Linked DNA regions of Homo sapiens. The protein of the gene in region 2 interacts with the protein of the main gene of each other region in a pairwise test. Each region holds a gene or a part of one and is shown on either strand. Other genes may lie near its edges.

Region 1 (8,921 bases), on a different chromosome or scaffold from region 2:
AAACAGCAAATGCACCTCTCAATGAGTTCTGCTCACTAAGGAGTCAATGCATGACACTCACCCAGCAGGGCAGCCACTATGCCCACCAGCCCCGTGCCAGCACCCAGCTCCACGGCAGAGCGGCCCCTGAGCTCCACAGCTCCCATCTCCAGGTATGTGGAAAGAACGATGGCCTGAATGAAAACACAGTGTGATGACGATTAAGGTCAACATGTGCTTGAGTAGCTGCAGGGTTTCAGGTCAGCTACACCCACCCCTCTCCCACTTCGAGGTTCAATTCCCAGCTTAACAACACACACAGGAACTTAGCTGGTGCAGCAAGGTAACCTCCCCCTTAGAGCAAGCACAGGGTCCCACAGCAGTGCCCAGAGATGATGCCCACACTAAATGGGGTCCTGCTGGATCTGGAAAGCTTAATTTTTTTTTTTTTTTTTTTTTGAGATGGAGTCTCAGTCCATCTGTCACCCAGGCTGGAGTGCAGTGGCACAATCTCAGCTCACTGCAACCTCCACCTCCCAAGCTCAAGCGATTCTCCCACCTCAGCACCCCCAGTAACTGGGACACAGGCGTGCACCACCACACCCAGCTAATTTTTGTAGTTTTTTTGGTAGAGATGGGGTTTTGCCATGTTGGCCAAGCTGGTCTTGAACTCCTGAGCTCCTGCGTCAGCTTCCCAAAGTGCTAGGATTATAGGCGTGAGCTATCACACCCAGCCTGGAAAGCTTAACTTTTTACTGTGTCACAGCACTTTTATGCTTGAAGTTTACACAACTATTCTGCAAGAACTGACATGAACAATTTCTATGATTTTGTTTAAGGGAATGCCCAGTTCCTAAACCAAACTCAGGTCAGCAAAGCCACAACTTCACCCATAGGGAAAAAGCAACACATTGCCCAAGGGTCTCTGAACTGCGTCACTGATGGTCATCGCCCCACAGGGGCCCTCACCATACGTTTTGGGCATCAGAAGGTAAGTTTTGGCCAAAGTTTTGGATACTTGATGTGTGGTTTCAACATTTGTTTATGACCCTACAGAAAGAAGTGTATAAAGCTAACATAACTTGTTACTATAATTTATTTCTCACAGCCGCATACTGTGAGTATAATTGGCAATTCCTCTTCTTGGTGAGCATTTACGAGTCTTCCCATTCCTCGTTATTATTTATCTTTTTTTTTTTTTTGAGATGTAGTCTCACTCTGTCACCCAGGATGTAGTGCAGTGGTGCAATCCCAGCTCCCTGCAACCTCTGCCTCCCAGGTTCAAGCGATTCTCCTGCCTCAGCCTTCCGAGTAGCTAGGACTACAGGTGTGCGCCACCACGGCTAATTTTTGTATTTTCAGTAGAGATGGAGTTTCGCCATGTTGGCTAGGCTGGTTTCGAACTCTTGACTTCAAGTGATCTGCCCACCTCGGCCTCCCAAACTGCTGGGATTACAGGTGTGAGCCACCACACCAGGCCTATATCTTTATTATTACCAGAGTAACTTCCATGTAGTTACCTGGACTGGATTCCTAGAAGTGGTATTACTACATTAGAATATATTGAGATTTTTATTCCTACGTGTTTAACATCCCTAACAATGTTAAAACTGTCAAACTGTATTTATGCCAATCATGCATTCAACATTAATTGAGTTCCCACTGAGTCCTAGGTGTGGGGCTAGATGCTGAGGGCTCAAGTCAGAACAGGGCAGGGAGAGGAAGAAGTTAAAAAGCAGTTACAATTTTTTAACAATTACAACTATGGAAAACTTAAAGAAAACACATAATCTCCATTTTGGGCTCTGCCACTTTACAATACTCTGTGAAATAAAGAGACTAACTCGGCTGGGCGCTGTGGCTCACGCCTGTAATCCCAGCACTTTGGGAGGCTGAGGCAGGTGGATCACTTGAGGTCAGGAGTTCCAGATCAGCCTGGCCAACATGTCGAAACCCCATCTCTACCAAAAAATACAAAAATTAACCAGGTGTGGTGGCGTGCACCTGTAGCCCCAGTTACTCCAGAGGCTGAGGTGGGAGAATCACTTGAACCCAGGAAGCGGAGGCTGCATTGAGCCAGGATCGCACCACTGCACTCCAGCCTGGGCAACAGAACGAGACTATGTCTCAAAAGAAAAAAAGACTAACTCGTGTCCAAAGCAGTTGGGGGCTTTCCTTCCTATCCTCTCCGACAAGTCATTAACTTTCCTCAGCTTTCATTTACACCTTTAAAATGTAATCTATGTGGAGGGACAAGAGGAGTGACTAAGGGATACGGGTTTGAGAGTGGCAGTGATAGTAAAACTTTTAAAATTGAAGCGGTAATAGTTGCACTACTCTGTGAATATACTGTATTTTTAAAACCGCACTGAATTGTGCACTTTAAATAGGTAAAGTGTATGCTATGTGAATTATATCTCAATAAAGCTGTTCTAAAAAAAATAAAAAATAAAAGCCAGTCTTGCAAGTGTGAACGTTTTCAGAGGTCCCCCAGGGCTTACTTACCGCATCCCAAACCACCGCTGCGACTCCCAGGTGTCTCCAGTCCTGCCGGATCTGGATCGTGTGGTTTGCAAAGGAAAAAGTTGCAAGAGGCTTGTGGAATTTCTGCAACCCAAATTCCGTGGTCTCCTCATAGGGCACGAGGGCCATTCCGCCTGCACCCCGCCCTCTGCTCAGACCTGCCGTGCAAAAGAATCCTGGGTGACGCTCTGGCCAAAAGATACATTATCTGTTCTTAACTAACTCCAAATGCTTTTAAGGTCGTTTACAAGTTCAAAAGAAAAAAAGAAACAGGTGGAGGAAGCCTTTGTCCAATTTCTTTTGCATGGCTCTTCCGAATCTGAGTGAGATTTGGCTCGGAATTTGTGTCAACGGATGTGTTTGGGGAAGAAGAAAAAAAAAGCCCAGAACATTCCAACTTCCGCAGAATACCCTATACACTGCACTGCTACCACTCCGTGAATTCAGAACTACACAAGCGGCGGAAGCGGCGGTGATCGCCCAGGGCCCCAGAGCAGCGCGGAAAGCAGCGCTTCCAACCCAGACCCGGGCGCCCGGACTGCAGCTGCAGCCAGCCGGGCGGCCCGGGTTCTTTCGCTACGGTTTCGCTACCCACCTCCCCTCCTCCATCGGCTGCTTCGATAGTGATAACAATGGGACAGAACCTGCCCTTAGACTGGGTGTTAGCGGTTTGATAAACCAGAAATACATGGTCGCCGCAGTTCCGTCTCCCCGACCCTGGAAGTGAGCGACACTGGGGGCCTCCAAGCGGCTCGCGGGGACAGCGGGGACTCGGAGGCCTCCCCGAACTCCCCCTATAGCTGCCCCCCACTCACCCCTCTCCCGGGACGACCAGTGCGCCCTTCCTGCCCGGGGGCCCCGGAGCTGCGGCAACCCTCCAGGGGTGAGAGGGAGACCAGGCGAGGGGGGTCACAGGGCCTCTTAGGATCCCCAGGCCATACGGGGCGCCGTGAGCTGCCCGGCGGAGCACCCAGGGCTCGCCCAGGCCGGGCTGAGGCGCCGCCACGCCGGTACTTACGGCCCGGGAGGCGGTCCCGCGTGGAGCGCGCGCTCCGCTTTCCCCGCCCCGGGCTGGCTGCGAAAACCGCCGGCCTTAAAGAGCCCGCGACGCGGGGGCGGGCGGCCCCGGCCCGGAGCCACGCATTTCCGGTCTCCCGGCACCCAGCCTCCGGCAGGTGCCCCCGGAGCTCACGGCGAGGGCGGGGCCGGGCCGTGGCGCGGTGGAGGAGTGACGTTGCGGGAGGGGGGACCGGGGCTTTCCCTCGTGCGTCCCCAGGGTACACGGACGACTTAATCCGTTTCCCCCGCCGCCGAGGGAGGCGCTGTGGGGGCGGGAGCAAGAGTGAGATCGGGGTGCCGAACTGCCGCGGGTGCACAGGGAGAGCATGGGGTGCCCTGGGCTCTCCTAGCGGGAGAGAAAAGCCACCCACCTGGCGCTGAATGTGCCTCTCGACCTTTTCTATCATGTGCTCCGCCGCTCTCTGCCTCTGACTTTGTCGCTTGCGCGTTGTGCCTGTTTTTTAAAGGTGGCGCGTTAGCGGATGATGGAGACAGCTCGCTCCGAAGAAGGCATGGTCACTCTAGTCCCCGCGTCTCCACGGTGGGGTCAGAAGCGGCGTAATAGCCCGCTTGGCGGCAATCGAGTGGAAAAGTCACAAAACCCTTTTCAACTAAAGCACAGTGGGGGAAGTGAACACGTGGCGCCCGAGTCCAAGTTTTTAAAGTGGGGCGGGGGTCGGCGGGCTCTGGCTGCAGTCGGAAGCGCGGAGCTCTGGGCGTGCGCTCGGCTCCAGCCCCGGCCCCAGGCGGCGCTGCAGACTCCAGTGCCCCAGTCTCCCTCCTCCCGATGCCAAGACGCACCTGCCCGTGAGGACCCACGCTGGACGTGGAAGGTGCCGAGGGCCTGGTACCCTGGCCGCAGGCCCTGGCAGAGCGCGCGGCTGGAGTGGGTCCATTGAGTGGGACCGTGCGGGGACCGGCATCCTCCCGGGGCAGGCTTCTTTTTCCTCCTGGGGCCCCTCGCCCCACACCGCCCGCTGCGCTCTCAGCGCGGCTGCACGTTAGAACCAGCTGGGGTAAACCTCCCTTACCAGTCCCCCGCCCCAAGAGCTGGCCATGGGAGGGGGCCCGAGCGCTGATTTTTTTGTTTGGTTTTTTGCTTTTGTTTTTGTTTTTGTTTTTGTTTTGAGACGGAGTCTCTCTCTGTCGCCCAGGCTGGAGTGCAAGGGCGCGAACTCGGCTCACTGCAGTCTCCGCCTTCCGGGTTCAAGCGATTCTCCTGCCTCATTCTCCCGTGTAGCTAGGATTACAGGCCTGCGCCAGCACGCCAGCTAATTTTTGTGGGATTTTGTTTGTTTGTTTGAGACGGAGTCTTGCTCTGTCGCCAGGCTGGAGTGCAGTGGCGCGATCTCGGCTCACTGCAGCCTCCACCTCCCGGGTTCAAGCAGTTCTCCTGCCTCAGCCTCCAAAGTAGCTGGAATTACAGGCGCCCGCCGCCACACCCGGCTTTTTTTGTGTTTTTAGTAGAGACGGGGCTTCACCATGTTGGCCAGGCTGGCCTTGAACTCCTGATCTCCGGTGATCCGCTCATCTCAGCCTCCCAAAATGCGGGATTACAGGTGTGAACCACTGCCACCTCCCCCACCCCTACCGCCCGAGCGCTGATTTTTTTTTTTTATTATTATTATTCAGAGTTTCGCTCTTGTCACCCAGGGTGGAGTGCAATGGCATGATCTCGGCTCACTGCAACCTCCGCCTCCCAGGTTCAAGGGATTCTCCTGCCTCAGCCTCCAAGTAGCTTAGATTAAGGGGCCCACCACCACGACTGGCTAATTTTTGTATTTTTAGTAGAGACGGGGGTTTCACCACGTTGGCCAGACTGGTCTCGAACTCATGACTAAAGGTGATCCACCCGCCTCGGCCTCGCAAAGTGCTGGGATCACAGGCATGAGCCACCGCGCCCGGCAAGCGCTGATATTTTTAAGAGCTCCCGGGGCCGCCCCCGGGAGCCTGCTTCCCGCGGTGGGAGCCTGGCGGGGGCCTGAACCTCTCTCTCCTGGCCTCTTCCGTCCTGTAGGCGGCGTCCCCGGCCTCCAGATTAATCTTCCATCGGAAGGTGGGGCCTGTGGCTTCGAGGGTAACCTCAGGGAACTTGGAAGACCACCAGTGAGGGACTTTTACCTCCTTTTTCGTTTTCTTTTTTGGTCCTCTCGCTTTCTCTCTTAGTATTTCCTTTCTCTCTTACCTCCTGCACTTGGTGTTTCTGCCTCTCAGCTTTCCCTTTATCGAAGACCTCCCTTTCTTGCCTTTATTTTCTCTCTGTCCCTTTTTGCAGGGAGAACCAGCAATGGGCACAAGAAAGAACATGTATGGGCTTTGGGGCCAGACAAATATGGAAAATTTAAATTATTCCTCTGACTCTTTAAATGGGATGACTTTGGGAAATTACTAAACCTCGCTAGATCCCAGGCTGCTCATCCCTGAAGCCTGGCATGGAGCCTTGGGCCCCTTCTGTTTTTTCTCCCTATTCTCCATCCTTTCTGCTGAAATCAAGCATATGACCTCAAAAAACAAAGCAAAACCTTCCCCACCTCTCCAGCACTCTAACATGGAACATGTGCCTCATTATATTATGAGTTTTCTAGGAAGGTGTCATTTACTTTTTCTCAACCGTCTTGTCCTCCCAATGTTCTAAGCTGTATCAGATGGCTCAGGAAGCACCAAAAGGAATATTGAGGAACATATGCAACTCGTATAGCAGTGTAGCCATTAAGCAGAGCTCTGTTTTTATCAAAATAAGCCAGTGGTCCACTGAATATTTGAAAATACATTTTTAATCCTAAAAACAAGTTGGTGTGTGGCAGACTACATATTGTTTGGAGTAGTCGGCCAAGTGTGGTGGCTCACGCCTGTAATCCTAACACTTTGGGAGGCCAGGGTGGGAGGATCACTTGAGCCCAGGAGTTCAAGATCAGCCTGGCCAACATAGTAAGACCCCATGTCTAAAAAAATTTTTTTAAAGGCCAGGTGCAGTGGCTCACACCTGTAATCCCAGCACTTTGGGAGGCTGAGGCGGGTGGATTACAAGGTCAGAAGATCGAGACCATCCTGGCTAACACGGTGAAACCCCATGTCTACTAAAAATACTAAAAATTAGCCGGGCATGGTGGTGGACACCTGTAGTCCCAGCTACTCAGGAGGCTGAGGCAGAAGAATGGCGTGAACCCAGGAGGCAGAGCTTGCAGTGAGCTGAGATTGCACCACTGCACTCCAGCCTGGGTGACAGAGCGAGACTCTGTCTCAAAAAAAAAAAAATTTAAAAAAAAAAATAGCCGAGCATGGTGGTGCACACCTATAGTCCCAGCTACGTGGGAGGTTGAGGTGGGAGGATCATGTGAGCCCAGAGGTGGAGGCTTCAGTGAGTCCTGAAGTCACACCACTGCACTGTATCCTGGGTGACACAGCAAGACCCTGTCTCAAAAAAAAAAAAAAAGAAATTCTGACAGTCTTTTTTTTTTTTTTTTTTTTTGACACAGAGTCTTCTCACTCTGTCACCCAGGCTGGAGTGCAGTGGTGCAATCATGGCTCACTGCAGCCTGGACCTCTTGGGTTCAGGCATCCTCCCACCTCAGCCTCCTAAGTAGCTGGGACTACAGGTGTGTGCCACCACACCCAGCTAATTTTATTTTTTGTATAGAGAGAGTCTTGACATAGAGTCTTGACATGATGCCCAGGCTGGACTTGAACTCCTAGCCTCAAGTGATCCCCCCACCTCCTTCTTCAGCCTCCCAAAGTGCTGGGATTACAGGCGGGAGCCACTGAGCCTGGCCTCTCCTGACAGTCTTGTTAGGAATATGCAAAAAGATAGATTTACTTCCCGCATTGTTTGTAATTCCGAAGTGCAGTTTAATCGTAGTGTTAACAGTGTATAAAATAGTGCTTTAGCTGGGCGAGGTGGCTCACGCCTGTAATCCTAGCACTTTAGGAGGCCGAGGCGGACGGATCACCTGAGGTCAGGAGTTCGAGACCAGCCTGACCAACATGGAGAAACCCCATCTCTACCAAAAATACAAAATTAGTCTGGCATGATGGCGCATGCCTGTAATCCCAGCTACTCGGGAGGCTGAGGCAGGAGAATCTCTTGAACCCAGTAGGCAGAGGTTGCAGTGAGCCAAGATCACGCCATTGCACTCCAGCCTGGGCAACGAGTGAAACTCTGTCTCAAAAAAAAAAAAAATAGTGCTTTTTACTTTTATCTGAATGATTGAAATGTCCTTTTCCCAATCCTATGATGCCTGACTGCAAAATAATGGTAGAAGGACACTTAGGCCTTTGTCCCTCCTGTCTCCTGGAACTAGTCCATGTCCAAGGTCATAGTAGAAGCAGTCACCTTGCTACTACCTTGGCACAGCTTGATCCCTATGTTCCCCCAGGCATGTTCCCTTTTTAGGCCAGGGTGGATACCCAACCCCACGCTGGGTACATAATTCTCTCTGCAGAAAGAATGCAGAGTGACTATCAGACATCTGTTGTTACTGCCTGCCCAACATCTATTTCTCATTTTCCTGGTAGCAGCAGTTCTCTTCTGCTGATGGTCAGGAGCCCAGCTTCTGGAGTGCAAGTTCTGCACCAACTCAGCTCTGCAATTTATTAGCTGTGAGGGCTTGGGTGAAATGCATTAACCTGTGTCTCAATGTCCTCATCTATAAAATAGGGATAATGTGATTATTGTATGAGTAAACAACAAAGATAACCTGAGATTAAAATGAGTTAACTTATCTACTTAGAATTGCGCCCAACAAACACATTTTATAGAGCATTTGCTTATACTGTTATGTGTTTGGACTGGTCTATCCTCAGCCCTTACTACATGATCAGGCACATGCCCCAGGCCTGGCCAATATGAACACAGTCCTTCCACCTGGCCACAGGTAGGTGAGATGTGAACATGTAACCAAAGCTGGGCCTAACCAGAACCCATTCTGAGACTTGAGACTCTCAGAGAACCAGCCTGTTGGGGAAGGATAGAAATTTAGAGGTCCTATTGGCCATCTGGTCCCAAGAGAACAAAACTAGCAGCAAATGTGGCCAGTGAAGGCGCTGGTGGAGAGAGAGGCTGCCTCCTGTTGATGTTTGACCACCTGGATCCAGCTGTCCTGGAATTTTCAGTTATTTGAGCCATTAAATTCCCTAATTAGCTTAAGCTGTCATTTGAGCAGCTTTTTTTTTTTTTTTCCATATCCTGAAGAAGAAAAACAATCCTAATACATTCAGTCTGGGCCGGTCCCTTGAGCAAAGGAGAGATATAAAGCCATGCCTGTATGGGGCCATCTTCACTGTGCGGTATAGATGGAGAAACCATTCTACAGAGAGCAGTCACCAGCAGAAACTTGGGGCTGAGCTGCCAGCTGCCGTTTTCC
Region 2 (8,054 bases):
TGTATCAGACATCTCTGGAAAACTATCTGTGGCACAACAGCTCTGCATTCAGAATGAGTCAAGGAACTTGAAGTCTTGTTACAGAATAATCTAATCAAACAACAGGGAACATTTAGTCCAGAGAAGAGATGATGTGGAAGATGGGTGGGATTAAGGGTCTTTTTCTGCTGGAGGGCTGTGGGAGGAAGATCAATTTTATTTATTCCGGGTGGCCCCAGAGGTTAGATCTAGGACCAGGAGAGAAAATTTGGCTCAGAATGAGGAAGAACTTGGCTAACACGCCTGACGTGTCTGATGATGGCACATGCTGCTGTGTGGTAGTTGCTTAGTCACTGGGGATATTTTAAGTTTACCTGGCAAGGAGTCTGTGGAGAAGATTCAAGTACAAATTCAGGCAACAACTGACCCAATGTTAACTGTGGCTTTAAGAGACTGATTCAGTGGGCCGGGCGCGGTGGCTCACGCCTGTAATCCCAACACTTTGGGAGGCCGAGGTGGGCGGATCACAAGGTCAGGAGATCAAGACCATCCTGGCTAACACAGTGAAACCCCGTCTCTACTAAAAATACAAAAAATTAGCCGGGAATGGTGGCGGGCACCTGTAGTCCCAGCTACTCGGGAGGCTGAGGCAGAAGAATGGCGTGAACCCAGGAGGCGGAGCTTGCAGTGAGCCCAGATTGCAGACTATGATTCACTTTGGGAGGCCGAGGCAGGCGGATCACCTGAGGTCAGGAGTTTGAGACCGCCTAGCCAACACAATGAAACTACTAAAAATACAAAATTAGCTGGGCATGGTAGCACATGCGTGCCTATAATCCCAGCTACTCGGGAGGCTGAGGCAGGAGAATCACTTGACCTGGGAGGTGGAAGGTTGCAGTCAGTGAGACTGCGCCACTGCACTCCAGCCTGGGCAACAAAAGCAAAACTCCATCTCAAAAAAAGAAAAAAAAAGGCCAGGCGCGGTGGCTCAAGCCTGTAATCCCAGCACTTTGGGAGGCCGAGGCAGGCAGATCACGAGGTCAGGAGATCGAGACCATCCTGGCTAACATGGTGAAACCCCGTCTCTACTAAAAATACAAAAAATTAGCCAGGTGTGGTGGTGGGCGCCTGTAGTCCCAGCTACTCAGGAGGCTGAGGCAGGAGAATGGCGTGAACCCGGGAGGCGGAGCTTGCAGTGAGCCAAGATTGTGCCACTGCACTCCAGCCTGGGCGACAGAGCGAGACTCCGTCTCAAAGAAAAAAAAAAAGAGAGAGAGACTATGATTCATTTGGCAGATCTTAGAAAGGATTTCTAATTCACTGTGCTCTTTCTGATGCTAGACTATAGGCTCCGGGAATAAGCAATGTGTCTTATCTTTTTTGCCTTTTTTTTTTTTTTTTTTTTTTTTGAGACGGAGTCTTGCTCTGTCGCCCAGGCTGCAGTACAGTGGCACGATCTTGGCTCACTACAACCTCCGCCTCCCAGGTTCAACCAGTTCTCTGCCTCAGCCTCCTGAGTAGCTAGGATTACAGGCGCCCACCACCATGCCCAGCTAATTTTTGTATTTTTAATAGAGATGGGGTTTCACCATGTTGGCCAGGCTGGTCTTGAACTCCTGACCTCATGATCCACCCACCTCGGCCTCCCAAAGTGTTGGGATTAGAGGCATGAGCCACCACGCCCGGCTCTTTTTTGCCTTTTCTATGGCTGAGGTAGACCCAACTTTTCCTAAGCTTCTAATCCTCTTTGCTCCCACTCCAAGATGAAGGCCAACTCTCAATTCAGGCAGTGGGTGCCAAACAGCTGGAGTAGCTGGTTCTAGAAACAATCCCAGGCCATTCTGTAACAGGGTCCTGGGTATCGCAAACTCATGGGTCACAGGGTCTCACCTCCACAGGCTTCCTTCGAAGGATAAAGAAGTTCTCTGCTCGCATCATCATGAAGCGCATGAACTTGTGGCACAAAATCTTCTCGATCTCATCAGCCTGGGGAGTGCAAGAGAGAAATGTTTCTCTAAAGCTGACACCCAAGGCCAAAAACACCTTGTAGCCTGGTCTTCTGACTCCAGTTTTTTCAAGGCTCCCAGGAGACAGTGAGGTTTGGTACTCGGAAGGATCACTGAAGTGGGGGACCTGGCTGTCAACTGAAACAAGGGTCTACCTTGGGGCATCTCTTAATGACGACCCATTCCAGAGAGGTAATTCTGACAGGCTTCTATTGCTTCTTTCAGAGTCTACAGCTGTACTCCAAGCTGCCCTTTCCATTCTCATTTCACTAGTGTCACATTTCCCAGGGTGTTTTGCAGCATCACCTGGGCTATCAGAGATAACCTTAGGTGGTCTCTGCTTTAATAACACTGAACATCCAACAATCCCTGAAGTTTCTCCCTTCTGAATGCTCAACATTTCTTTTTTTTTTTTTTTTTTTTTTTTTCTGAGATGGAATCTCGCTCTGTCACCCAGGCTGGAGTGCAGTGGTACGATTTTGACTCACTGTAAGCTCTGCCTCCCGGGTTCAAGCGATTCTCCTGCCTCAGCCTCCCAAGTAGCTGGGATTACAGGCGCGTGCCACCACGCCTGGCTAATTTCTGTATTTTTAGTAGAGACAGGGTTTTACCATGTTGGCCAGGCTGGTCTTGAACTCCTGACATCAAGTGATCCACCCGCCTTGGTCTCCCAAAGTGCTGGGATTACAGGCATGAGCCACTGTGCCTGGCCCTGAACTCTCAACATTTCTAAAGGAAGATTATTGCTGCTGGTTGCTAGCATGCCCTTAACACCTCTCAACACTTGTTAACCTCCCATTTTAGCAAGGAAAGCAGGCCCCAGGTTTATAAGTTTCTGTAGAAAACAGTGTGTAGTCTGCATTTAATAACAGTGCTTCGTTTTCATCCTGTTGAAAGTTTAGAGTTGCCCTCTACTGGCCAGGCATGGTGGCTCATGACTGTAATCCCAGTACTTTGGGAGGTTGAGGCGGGCCCATCACCTGCGGTCAGGAGATGGAGACCATCCTGGCAAACATGGTGAAACTCTGTCTCTACTAAAAATACAAAAATTAACTGGGCGTGGTGGCGGATGCCTGTAATCCCAGCTACTTGGGAGACTGAGACAGAAGAACTGCTTGAACCCGGGAGGCAGAGGTTGCAGTGAGCTGAGATCATGCTGCTGCACTCCAGCCTGGGCGACAAGAGTGAGAATCCGTGTCAAAAAAAAAGGAAGCAGAGGCTAGGTTTCCTGCACTCTGAATCTGGAATCTGGCACACTGATCTCTCAGATGGGGACCCCGGACTGAAAGAGGCTGAAAGGACTGAAAGAGGCCTTACGTTGGGCCTCCTCCATGGTGAACTTACCTGTTTCACAGCAATGCTGACCCGGACAGAGTTGATGGAGCCCTCAATCAGAACCTTTTCCTTCTCATTCCTGCTGATGGTCACAGGTTGTAACAGGAGCTCTTTGCTACTCCTGAAAACATAATGTGACAGAGTACTTGTACTACAGAGGGATAGAATAGTCAGAGTGACCCCACGCAGGTCCTGGAATCACTATGAGACCATAGAGTCCAAGGAATAGAAGACTCACAAGCAGGAGTGCTCCAAGATGGGGGCCAGTGAGTGTGTTCTTCAGCAGAAAGAGCACAGGCTCTGAAGTCAGGGCGAAAAGGTTTTGAAATCCAGCCTCCTCTGTTACTTTCCTTGGGCAAGTTACCCTGTTGGAATCTCAATTTTCTCATCTGTAAAATGACTCTGATTCCTAATTCACTGGCGAGGACTGAGAGAGATCAAAAAGGGTCAAATGTCTAATAGCGTGCCTGGCACATAGTAGGAGCTTTACAAAAGATAGCTATTTTAGTAACTACAAGTTGAACATCCCCAATCTGCAAATCTGAAATCCAAAATCTGAAACTGGCTGGGCACAGTGGCTCATGCCTGTAATCCCAGCACTTTGAGAGGCTGAGGCTGGTGGATCACCTGAGGTCAGGAGTTCGAGACCAGCCTGGCCAACATGGTGATATCCCATTTGTACTAAAAATATAAAAATTAGCTGGGCATGGTGGCGCACTCCTATAATCCCAGATACTCAGGAGGCTGAAGCACGAGAATTGCTCGAACTCAGGAGGTGGCAGTTGCAGTGAGCCAAGATCATACCACTGTACTCCAGCCTGGGTGACAGAATCAAACTCCATCTCAAAAAAAAAAAAAAACCTGAAAGTTTCCGAGTGCTGACAAGATGCTCAAAGGAGATCCTCATTGGAGCATTTTGGATTTGGAATTAGGGATGCTCAACTGGTTAAGTATCTGCAAATATTCCACAATCTGAAATACTTTTGGTCCCAAGCATTTTGGATAAGAGATACTCAACCTGTACAGGCAAACCAATATACCATTTAGGAATACAGAGAGAACACCTGTCTTAGAGGTAAGGAAAGGCTAAAATTGAACACAGTTTGGCTTCCTTTAATTATCAATCCAGAAATGATTCATTTGCCTCTGAGACCCCTATGAGTTCAGGTTACAAAGTAATGCCTCTGAATACCTAGAGATCTCTAATAGTAATTAATTGTGGTGTGGTGTCTCTAAACTGCTAACCATTTTCAAAGGCCCACTGGAAATCGTGTACGTTACACAGTATAACAGGGCATATCCTAACATCTTTATCAGTTATTTTTAAAATTAAAAATTAAATCGTATCATTTAATGTTGTAACCCAGATTATCTCAGTTATGTATGTACCAGAATGAATTTTATTTTATTTTATTTTATTTTATTTTATTTTTGAGACGAAGTCTTGCTCTGCTGCCAGGCTGGAGTGCGGTGGCACGATCTTGGCTCACTGCAACCTCCGCCTCCCAGGTTCAAGCAATTCTCCTGCCTCAGCCTCCCGAGTAGCTGGGACTACAGGTGCATACCACCATGCCCAGCTTATTTTTGTATTTTTAGTAGAGACAAGGTTTCACCATGTTGGCCAGGATGCTCTCGATCTCTTGACCTCATAATCTGTCTGCCTCGGCCTCCCAAAGTGCTGGGATTACAGGCGTGAGCCACTGTGCCCGGCCTATTTACTTATTTTTTGAGACAGGGTCTCACCCAGGCTGGAGTGCACTGTCGCAATGTTGGCTCATTGCAACCTCTGCTTCCCAGGCTCAAGAGATCCTCCTGCCTCAGCCTCCAGAGAAGTGGGACTACAGGCATGTGCCACCATGCCTGACTATTTTTGCATATTTTTTTGGTAGAGATGGAGTCTTGCCATGTTGCCCAGGCTGGTCTTGAACTCCTGTACTCAAGCGATCTACCCACTTCAGCCTCCTAAAGTGCTCGGATTACAGGGGTGAACCACTGCACCAGGCCTCCAGATTAAATTTTAAAGGGGAAAAAGATATTTATGAAATGGAAACTAGATAAGAGAAAATCATTCAAAATATGAAGTATTTGGATTAGGGGGTCAGAGTGTCTAGGCTGGTAGGTAAAAAAAAAATCCCTGATCATTACATTAGAAAAGTATGGAGATGGGAAAAAAAAAAAAAAAAAAGAAAAGTATGGAGATGGAATCTCAGATAACAATTATCTGACCATTCCTTAAACTACCAGTGTTTTCAACAATGCCACAGGAGAGACTTCATCAACAGCCCTGCTCTGAGAAGTCATACCTTGTGTTAACCAATCTTGTCTTTTCCCCTGGGTTCTGTCCTGCCAACCCACTGACCCTATTTTCTTAACTCCAAATTGGGAATCACCATTCAGCTGGCAGCAAGACAAAATGTCAACTGCAGCTTTCCTGACTACTGCAGGACATAAGTTCATGGCACCTTCTAGACAGCAGCCATCTCTGTGTGCTGCACCCCTCATCCCCACCTTGACTTGTCCTTCCCTACCTGACTTCCACTTCCGGCTTGTTGTGTCGTTCCACAACCTGGGAGGAGAAGTTCTCCAGGCAGAGGGCAGCCTGCAATGTGGCCCGCACGGCACTCAGGTAGGGGCGGAGAGTGGCAGTCTATAGGAAATAACACAGAGGAAAGGGAAGATCAAAATCTGTCACGCCAAACCCACCGATCCCCTATTCCAGCTCCCATGAAGCCAGGTAGCACTGAGGGTGCAAGGCTCTTAAGACACTACTGTGAACAGAACAGACTAGGCCTTCGAGACGCCTTCCAAGGTGTAGAGTGGTAGTTTTCAACAGGAGACAATTTTGCCTGCCAGGGTACATTTGGTAATGTCGAGACATTTCCTTTCTTTCTTTTTTAACCTGGGGTCAGACCAGAGGAATGCTGAGACATTTTCAATTGTCATGACTTGGCAAGAAGGGGAACTGCAGGCATTCAGTGGACAGATATCCACTAAACATACTACAATGCACTACAAAGAATTATCGAGACTCAAATATCAATAGTGCTAAGGTTGAGAAAGTGATCTAGAGACACACCAGTGAATGCATGATTGTCGTCAATCTATTAGGCCAACAAATGTATAGGTGTACTGTTTGCCACGCACTGAGCTAACTGGGAATTCAAAGATGATTAACACTGTCTCTACCCTCAAACAGCTCAACTGGATAGCAAATATACAGAAAATAACTATGATATAAAGATGACATGTGAAATATTTAGATTTACAAGTAATCTATATTTGCAGAAGAAACTGGTTTTGAAGGTGAAATGGGATTAGGAGGAGAAAAAGGAGAATAAGGACATTCTTTTTTTTTTTTTTTTTTTGAGACAGAGTCTCGCTCTGTTGCCCAGGCTGGAGCGCGGTGGCACGATCTCGGCTCACTGCAAGCTCCACCTCCCGGGTTCATGCCCTTCTCCTGCCTCAGCCTCCCAAGTAGCTGGGACTACAGGCGCCCACCACCACACCCGGCTAACTTTTTGTATTTTTAGTAGAGACAGGGTTTCACGGTGTTAGCCAGGATGGTCTCAATCTCCTGACCTTGTAATCTGCCCGCCTTGGCCTCCCAAAGTGCTGGGTTTACAGGCGTGAGCCACCACACCCTGCCAGAATAAGGACATTCTTAGGAGAGGGATTAGCTTCTAGCTGCACTGGTCAGTCCTTGTATCAGCCAAATTCTTTCCCACCTCAGAGCTTTACACATGCTTGACCATCTATCTGTAGGCTTTTCTCCTCTTTCTTTGCCTAAGTCATCCTCCAGATCTCAGCTTAATTAAGGAAGGCCTCTTGAGAGAGACCTTGACATCCCCCTATAAAGTATTTATTACAATTGACAAAAAAATGTCTTTCATGTCTTCTTAATATTTATTTTTGAGAGGGAGTCTCGCTTCTGTCACCCTCGCTGGAGTGCAGTGGCACGATCTCTGCTCACGGCAATCGCCGCCTCCTGGGTTAAAGCGATTCTCCTGCTTCAGCCTCCCGAGTAGCTGGGATTACAGGCGCACATCACCATGCCTGGCTAATTTTTGTATTTTTAGTAGAGACGGAGTTTCACCGTGTTGGTCAGGCTTGTCTTGAAATCCTGACCTCAGGCAATCCGCCCACCTCGGCCTCTCAAAGTGTTGGGATTACAGGCGTGAGCCAACGTGCCTGGCCTTTTTTATTTTTTTTTGAGACAGAGTCTTACTCTGTTGTCCAGGCTGGAGCGCAGTGGTGCAATCTTGGCTCACTGCAACCTCCACCTCCCGGGTTCAAGTGATTCACCTGCCTCAGCCATGCGAATAGCTGAGATGACAAGTGTGCACCACCGTGCCTGGTTAATTTTTGTATTTTTAGTAGAGATGGGGTTTCGCCATGTTGGCCAGGCTGGTCTCAAACTCCTGACCTCAAGTGACCCGCCCATCTCGGCCTCCTAAAGTGCTGGGATTACAGACATGAACCACTGCACCTGCCCTCCTTCATGCCTTTGTAAGTGATTTCTCCTTTACTAGGCTGTAAACCTCATGGTCAACAGACCATATCTATTTTATTCACAGCTATATAGCCTCCAACCTAGCTCAGTACCTAACATATACAGTGTCTCACTCATTTCCTGTAGAATAAATAAGCGAAAGAAATAATTAAGATTAGAGTAACACAAAAGGACAGCAAGAGTTCCAGAGTAGTAATGAGTACAATGTTTCTGTATATGAGAAG
Region 3 (8,054 bases), on a different chromosome or scaffold from region 2:
CATTTAGCTGGAGAATATACGGAAGGCTTTCAGACAACGCACAGGTATAGTGCTGCTCACAGTGCAGGATGGTAGAGGACTGAAACATGCAACCTTACACCTTACTTGGTAAAGCAGATTTAGTCTTCATGCCTGGACTGAACTCCACAGCTGCTGTGTTTCAACCAACAGTAATTTAGACTTTTTGTAACAACAACCAATGTCTTTTTCTTCTTTAAGAAAAAAAGAATAAATTAATTACCTTTGGCAAATTATATATCCATTTTACATGTTTAAAATTGTGCTTTGAACTCGAAGAATGGGTACTCTCTGCTGAGAGAAGTTCCTGATAAATATATATTATACCAAAGTCAGCTGGAAAATCTAGAATTTCTTGGCCACAAGTTAAGAGAGATCTTAAATTGGCATTACCCTGAAGACATTTCTAGGAAATTTAAAATGTTTTTTATATTGTCAAAAAGAAAAAATTTTTTCAATTAACATTACTTAAAATAATTATAATGTTCCATTTAACTTTTGTACAAACTCCTGATTTTATTGGTTAGTAGTTGTCCAGCCTCATCTGCACCAGATTGACTGAGCTCAAGCCACAATAAAAATGATAGTAAGTAGAAAAAGGTTTCTAGCAGCAGAGGGCACTGTTGTTGCAAGAAACAAAAAGTCTAGAATCTTTCCCATGTGCTTAAATTACTCTTGCAAGAAAGATAACATTCTTTGAATAACTTAAGTATTTTACTGCACCACTTACTGCTTTCAGCAACAAAACCTTTTAAATTATTTCTTATGATAACTAGATGCATGATCACTAGAGATTATGTAATAAATGGTTAAAATTCAAGCCACATCTTGCAGGTCCAGCCTGTCAAGATCTGCCAATACGAGATTTTGGTTGGTACAATTCTAGATAGCGTAATTTTTAGTTGGATATTGTGACTATAGTAATGAAATACATTTGGAACTACATTATGCATATTACTCAATGTGAGAAAAATATGTTTGTATTTAAATCAGATAATTTTCTACCTAAAATTTAAAGTAGGTAGGTATGATAATTAGCATTATAAATATGAAACAACCACCTTTAGGCAGATTAGTGTAGTGTAGAGAGGCAAAGAAACCCTAATTTTAACACACCATTTAGTATGCATAACAAATGTGCAGGTTGTAAAGTTTTATCTTTAAAAAAAAAAAATCTATCATTCAGTTATCTGTTCCAAGAACTCTGACATTGGGACCACCAATCTTTTAAGAAAAATGTAACTCTTCACATGCTATTTGACAAAAACCCTCAAAAGTTATCCAAATCAATGCATGTTCGGTTCCGTGTTTTAGCGCACACCTTTGCCAACTAGATTACATTTTTATGGTTGGTATTTCTGAACACCTCAATCCACACAAAGTGCAAAATAAAAATGCTAAAATTCTACAGTATTTTAGTACTATTCTGATTTGTATAGTTTTTTTAACCAAATATTGGAGTTACCATAATATTACCTCAGTTCATGTAGAATGAAAACTACTCCCTAAATCCCTGAAACTCCAACTTAAATTTTGTTTCAGAGTAATACCAAAAAAATTTTCAAAAATTTTGCTAAAAAGAGCCTGTCACATTTGCTACAGCATAAAAATAACCCCAGTCAATAACAAGTATTTAAGGGCTCCTTATGATCCCAGTCTGCAAATACCACTGCTATACCAATAACAGGCAGTATTACTGTAAGAGGTGTGTTAATCGTCTTCCCCACTAGTATCTCTGTAGTGATTTTATGTAGAGCATATTGCTAAAATTTGAGAAACTACATCGGTGTAGTGATGTCTACAGAACTGTGCAATGTATCAGCTTCAACATTCATATGTAGCATTGTATTCAAAATAAAGGGGCTAAAGAAACTAAGGTCTGCATCACTTAAAAAAGAATGTAGTGCTATACTAGATTTTTTTTTAAGAAAATTTAGGTACAGAAAAAGTAGGGTATGAAAATAGTGTTTTCCTTCTGGCATTATAAGTAAATTACATTAAGGTTTTTGTCAGTCTCACATATAGTATTTAAACTCCCTTGTTGATGGAATGAAAAATATTCACAAATCAAGTGAGCATCCTGGTGTAAACTTGCACACAATAACAGGGAGTAGCTTTGTAGAGGATTACGACAAACCTTTACAGATTAAATGAGGTATTGCACAGATTAAAAAAAAGCAAAAAAGGCAACAAAAATATACAGCAAATTGGTAGAACATTTACATGATAATTTTACAGAATCCACAGACAGAAAGTAGTGTTTAGTATTTCACCTTAAAAATATATATATATATATAATATATAGATCAGTCTTCCCACTCATCATCATCCTCAAAATCTTCTTCATCATCTTCATCTTCATCTTCATCTACAAGAAAATCAAGACAATTAAAACATATGCATAAATAAAATGACATTACATAATTCTTGGGTGGTTTCTCCAATTATTTAACTCCTGAAACACAGATAATGTGACTCCCAGAAGAATCTAGTTACTAAAACAGTTTAAAGTGAATCTAAAGAAATATATCTATAGAGTATGATAGTAAACTAAAGATTAAAACAGGGCTTAGAAGACAATGGTTCTAGTTCCTTAATATCTATGTGACAAATTTCAACCTGTTAATGTATAAAATCATCTGGGTTGACCTTTCTGTCACAAATCCAACTACCTTCTTGTACTCTTCATATGGATTCTCAAACTCAAAACTTCTAACTTTTATTTCCTTCCCCAATCTTCTTTTCCTGCTCCATCCTGGTCTGCTGCTCCATCTCAATAAATGGCATCACCATCCTGTCACATAATCAGGCCAAAAACCTAGAAATTATTATTACTTCCTCCTTTTTCACGATCCAATTATCAAGCCTGCTCTTTTTCACCTCTTTCACTGCTACTCTCCACACCACCATCACATCCTGCTTGGATTATTGCAACTCTAGAGTCTATTTGACTCAGAGCAAATGGAGTGATATTATTTAAATTTCAAGTTTAAAAAATATGTTGCTACCCTTCTTAAAGTCCTCCTGTGGCTACCACTGCTATTTGAATGAAATCTGATGCTACCTCCCTCCATAAGACCCTACATGATTTGTCCAGTTATTGTCTCTCTCTCTCCCCAAACTTCTCTCATATGTACTCTCCCTTCAAGTCACTCTCTCTAGTAAGATGGTCTCCTTTCTGTCCCTTAAACTCACCAATCTTATTCTGGCTTTAGAACTTCTGCAGTAGCTATTTCTTCGTTAAACTGAATCTTTTCATCATTTAGAAACCATTCATAAACTACTTCCTCAGAGAGGCCTTTCCTGACCATCATATGTAAAGTATAGCTCTTCCCCATAATCAGTAACGGCCTATCCCATTTTACTTTCCTCATATCACTTGCTAATATCTAAAATTATTGTACTTTATCTATTAAGCTCCATGACAGCACGGACCTTGCCTATCTTATTTCTCACTGTATCCTCAACACCAAAACAGCACTACACACCAGCCATTCAATAAATATTTGTTGAAGGAATATTTAGTTATCAGATTTTATAAGCATACTTCTATATTATACTGACTTTCCATATTTAACCTCTTCATATATCTATATATAAAATATGTATAAATATATACACCTATAAATATATAAATACATATACCTATATATAAATATATAAATATATATAAATATGTATATAAATATATATATAGGACCCATGAAGGCCAAGTATATAAAGTGGGACAGTGGCTGAGTAATTGTACTTGATAATGATAAAAAGCCAGTAAGACTAGGTGACATACGTGTGGGTTACATGTACAGAACACAGAACAATCTTTTTCTTCTATTTTTCTCATGTAAAATTGATTGTGTGAAGGTAGTATTTGAAGAAGTACTGGAGCTCTAGTATTAGAACTTGAAAATTAACAGAAGCCCAAGAGAAGCAACATTATCTTCTCTTAGCCCTAAACTAAGTTGTTACTTTTAAAACGATAATTATTTATTATTTATTTATTTATTTATTTAAGTCTCATGGTCAGCTCTAAATTGTTACAGAATTTATTTGGAAAGGAGTTCAATTGAGTCATGTTAATTTCTGTTTACTCTTCTAGCAAGGGAAATAATTTGCTACCAGATTTTGCTAGACATGCTTCACAAAATTTACCTGGATGAAAAGCATCAAAGACACCTGACTATGCTGGCATTACAGACTGACAAAAGACAGAAACTTATCAGTATCTATGGTGAAGAGGAAGAAGTAGCTAATAATTTCATCATCAGGTACTACCACAGAAATACTAACAGTTAAAATAAATGGGTCTGAAAATAAGTAAAAACCATCCTATATTTTCATTATATTAGCGTGACTATTACATACTATTAAAAAAAAACTTATTGTAGGGAAATATTTAGCAGAACTCACAGATACCAGCATAGAATAAATGCTTTTTCAGAATCATGTAGTTCACAGAAGCCTTACATTTCTTTATGAATGAATGAAGACCTTTCTTTATCTCTTCCTAGCAAACAACCTCTAAACAAAGCTTGAGATTTTTAGATCTCATTCCTATGACATTACTATGACATAAAAAATTCAGGCAGTTTACCTCATCTGTGAGGATTAGGGCTAAGAATTTAGGTAATTTTCACTGTTTTTATGCTAAAGAAGACTATACCATAAACATAACCATAACTTTAAATACCAGGTGTCTATGTATATCCTACTGACATGCAATTTAACAATTCAGACCTCTCCTGTGACTTCCAGACTCATAACGAAATGCCTACTCCACATCTATAGTTGAATTAATAGGTATCTCAAATTTAATATGTAAAATCAAACTCCTAATCTTCCCTCTCAAACTTTTTCTTCGTAAGTCTTTCCCCTTTCCAGTTGTTCAAGTCAAAAACCTTGGAGTCATTTTGCACTCTTCTTTTTCTTCAACCTTCACTTTCAAACCATCATCAAAACCAGTGATCTCCACATTCAAAATATAATTAATATTTAACCACTTCTCATTGGTGCTATAAACCTGGTTCAAGCCTCCATCACCTCTTGCTTGGATCATTACTACACCTCTGCTAAAAACCCTCCAATGGCTTCCCATCATATGCAGAATAAAAGCTAGTGCACTTTCAGGGGTCTCCAAAGCCTTACCACTGGCCTCCTACTACTTCTTGTATTTCATTCCTTACTATTCTTTCCCTCCCTCCCTTGCAAGCTCCGTGATCTCCTCATTGTTTCTCAACCTCACAGACTTTATATTTTCTGTTCTTTCCATCGGATACACTTTCCCTAGTTTTCTACATGGTTCACTTCCTGAACTGCTGGTCTTTTCTCAAATGTCACCTCAGTTAGGCTTTATTGTCCCTTATCATCCTTTATCATTTCAAAATGAACCTCTCTCTCAACAGTCTGCCCCCTATTTCCCTTTTCTGTTAGACTTTTGTCCTTACTTCATGTCACCATTTAACATACTGTATGTTTTTCTAGTTTTCTTTGTTTATTGCTTGTCTCTCTCTCTCATTAGACCTAATGCATGTCGATGAAGGCAGGGACTTTTTTTTTGTTAAAATTTTATTATTATTCCACAATAAATATTTATCTCTATCTCTGTAATGGAGGGTAGGTACAAATATGCCTATTTAAGGAAAACAAACATTGCTCAAGGATCTTAAGACATGGACATCCTTACAGAGAAACAAAAGGAAGGTAACATTTATTAAGCACCTACTATGTGCTAGGCAATCTGCAGGTTAGTGACATACTATTTAATTCTCACATCTATATGTTTTGTGAGTTCTCTGAATGTAACAAACAAGAAACTGAGGCTCACAGAGATTAAATAAATCTAAGAAGAAAGATCTGATTCTAGCACATCATGTTGGAGAAGCTATTTAGCAAACCTCAACTACTCCAATCAGCAAAACTCATATTCTTGTTCTTTCTTTAAAGGAATATTTATATGGTGGTATGTATATGTTTAATAATAACCTCAGAATAGGTACTGGTTTCTTCAAATCAACCTTTTAGAAAATGAAAAAGAAAGGTTTAAAAAAAGTTAGTATTCTTTAGCAAACTCTAGAAACAGTAAAAATTACTGAAATTCTTATCCCTAATCCTTACAGATGAGGTAAATGGCCCGATTTATTATTATTATTATTTATTCATTTTATTTTTGAGACGAAGTTTTGCTCTTGTTGCCCATGTCGGAGTGCAATGGTGCGATCTTGGCTCACCACAACCTCTGCCTCCTGGGTTCAAGCAATTCTCCTGCCTCAGCCTCCCGAGTAGCTGGAATTACAGGCATGCGCCACCACGCCGGCTAACTTTTTTGTATTTTTAGTAGAGATGGAGTTTCTCCATGTAGGCCAGGCTGGTCTCGAACTCCCGACCTCAGGTGATCCACCCGCCTCGGCCTCCCAAAGTGCTGGGATTACAGGTGTGAGTCACCGCACCCAGCCCTGAATTTTTCATGTCACAGTAATGTCACAGGAATGAGATCTAAAAATCTCAAGCTTTGTTTAGAGGTTGTTTGCTAGGAAGTCTATTAGCATTTCCTGATATAGGAAACAAAACTGTCAATATTCCCAAAGCTGTTCTTTCAATTTATGGCTATGGCTGTGGTGGTGTTGCATTTGTTAAGTCTCAGAGAGACTAGTCACACAGGCAACAACTTTTTAAAATACATCCTAGAGCCCACATCAGTAGTTACTCAATTAGCAGAGAGAAAGCTAGCAAAGACAGTCATAAAAATAACAGAACGTCAAACATTCAAATTTATTAAACACACACGCACACTCTCTCTGTCTCTCTCTCTCTCTCTCTCTCTCTCTCTCTCTACCTGAAGAATGAATGGCTTTGCTCCTTTTCTGCATCACTTCCATTAATGCACCCACAATTCCTGAAGTGGGTGCAGGTGTTGGTGGTGTAGACTCTTGGCCATCAGCCACCTTGGAAAAGAAAGTTAGCAAAACTCAGTAATAAATCTTTAGCCAAGAATCTTTGTCTCCAGAAAGTCCTACTTTCTTAGAATCACTTCTTATTGTAAAAGACAAAAAAGATATCAAACTGGCAAGCGCAGGACAAGATTAATCAAATTAACAAGAAATAAACTGCTGCCTTAAAGATATTATTCAAAAATATTTCCTTTCCATCTTAATGTATAAGCCAAAAATACATTTCCAAATCTATGTTTACATTCAGATAACAAACCCTCTCCTGAATAATACTTGCTGGGTTACTTCTGTTTATTCCAGCACACACAGACTTAGATGATCAACTTTAAAGCTTTTATCAAGGGATTTCATGTTATAAACAGAGGTTAATACTTAGACTCCAGAGTTGTTACGTGGGACGCACACTGAAGATATTGAAAAACAACTGTAGAAACTTATATTTGCCTACAAAAATTCAGCTTTACACCTTTATGTTACATTTATACCTTCAAAATGAACCTCTTTTCTCATAGTATATAATTTCTTTTTAAGGAGATGAGTTGATCAACTTTCAAAATGTACCTGCCTCACTAGGCAAGTAACAATCCCTAACTGAAGTACTTCCAGCTGTGCCAAAGTGCATTCATGAAAAAAAAAATTATAATTAAAGATGAAACAGCATAGCTGTATTAAATAATTACCTATGTTTTAATACATACATATATAATATATATTTTTGAAATTCTTAATCATTTCCCAAAGACAATTTTATTTAGACAAACTTTCCATTTTGATCTGTACAATTCTTCCTCTAATACTCCTTGTTCTTTCTGGAGTAAACACCTTTTTTAAAAAAATTCAAAGTGGTTCCCCCTAAGATATAGATTCATTCCTTAGTATTTTGGCTTTAAACATTATGTATTAACTATTTCCAGTATAGAAGTACCACAAATGAAAAAAGATAACAGAGAGTTTCAGAGCTTTGTATTTCTGCACAAGGCTCTCAAGGAGGTACAACAGCGGTAGGGACATTTAGACTACCTTTAAGCAATGTGATAATGTAAAGCAGAGAGCACAAAGCAGAAGTGAGCATACTCTCATCAAACACATTTT

Evidence for each region.
Region 1: the proteins of ARPC4 (region 2) and METTL21A interact in binary tests that used the Homo sapiens proteins (3 or more experiments, as listed by UniProt).
Region 3: the proteins of ARPC4 (region 2) and WASL interact in binary tests that used the Homo sapiens proteins (3 or more experiments, as listed by UniProt).

The regions. Positions count from the first base shown.
Region 1 is NC_000002.12:207,621,745-207,630,665, forward strand, and holds the start of METTL21A (protein N-lysine methyltransferase METTL21A), read right to left. Parts: upstream 3,651-8,921; 5' UTR 3,318-3,650; intron 3,245-3,317; exon of another isoform or gene 3,193-3,244; coding exon of another isoform or gene 3,147-3,192; exon of another isoform or gene 3,098-3,146; intron 2,875-3,097; exon of another isoform or gene 2,661-2,874; coding exon of another isoform or gene 2,632-2,660; coding exon 2,485-2,631; intron 174-2,484; coding exon 62-173; intron 1-61. UniProt on the Homo sapiens protein: Protein-lysine methyltransferase that selectively trimethylates residues in heat shock protein 70 (HSP70) family members. Contributes to the in vivo trimethylation of Lys residues in HSPA1 and HSPA8.
Region 2 is NC_000003.12:9,795,572-9,803,625, reverse strand, and holds part of ARPC4 (actin-related protein 2/3 complex subunit 4), read right to left. Parts: intron 5,968-8,054; coding exon 5,849-5,967; intron 3,442-5,848; coding exon 3,330-3,441; intron 1,966-3,329; coding exon 1,870-1,965; intron 1-1,869. Other genes in the region: ARPC4-TTLL3 fusion protein, read right to left, coding at 1,870-1,965, 3,330-3,441, 5,849-5,967. UniProt on the Homo sapiens protein: Actin-binding component of the Arp2/3 complex, a multiprotein complex that mediates actin polymerization upon stimulation by nucleation-promoting factor (NPF).
Region 3 is NC_000007.14:123,682,195-123,690,248, forward strand, and holds part of WASL (actin nucleation-promoting factor WASL), read right to left. Parts: intron 6,957-8,054; coding exon 6,848-6,956; intron 2,387-6,847; coding exon 2,325-2,386; 3' UTR 1-2,324. UniProt on the Homo sapiens protein: Regulates actin polymerization by stimulating the actin-nucleating activity of the Arp2/3 complex. Involved in various processes, such as mitosis and cytokinesis, via its role in the regulation of actin polymerization.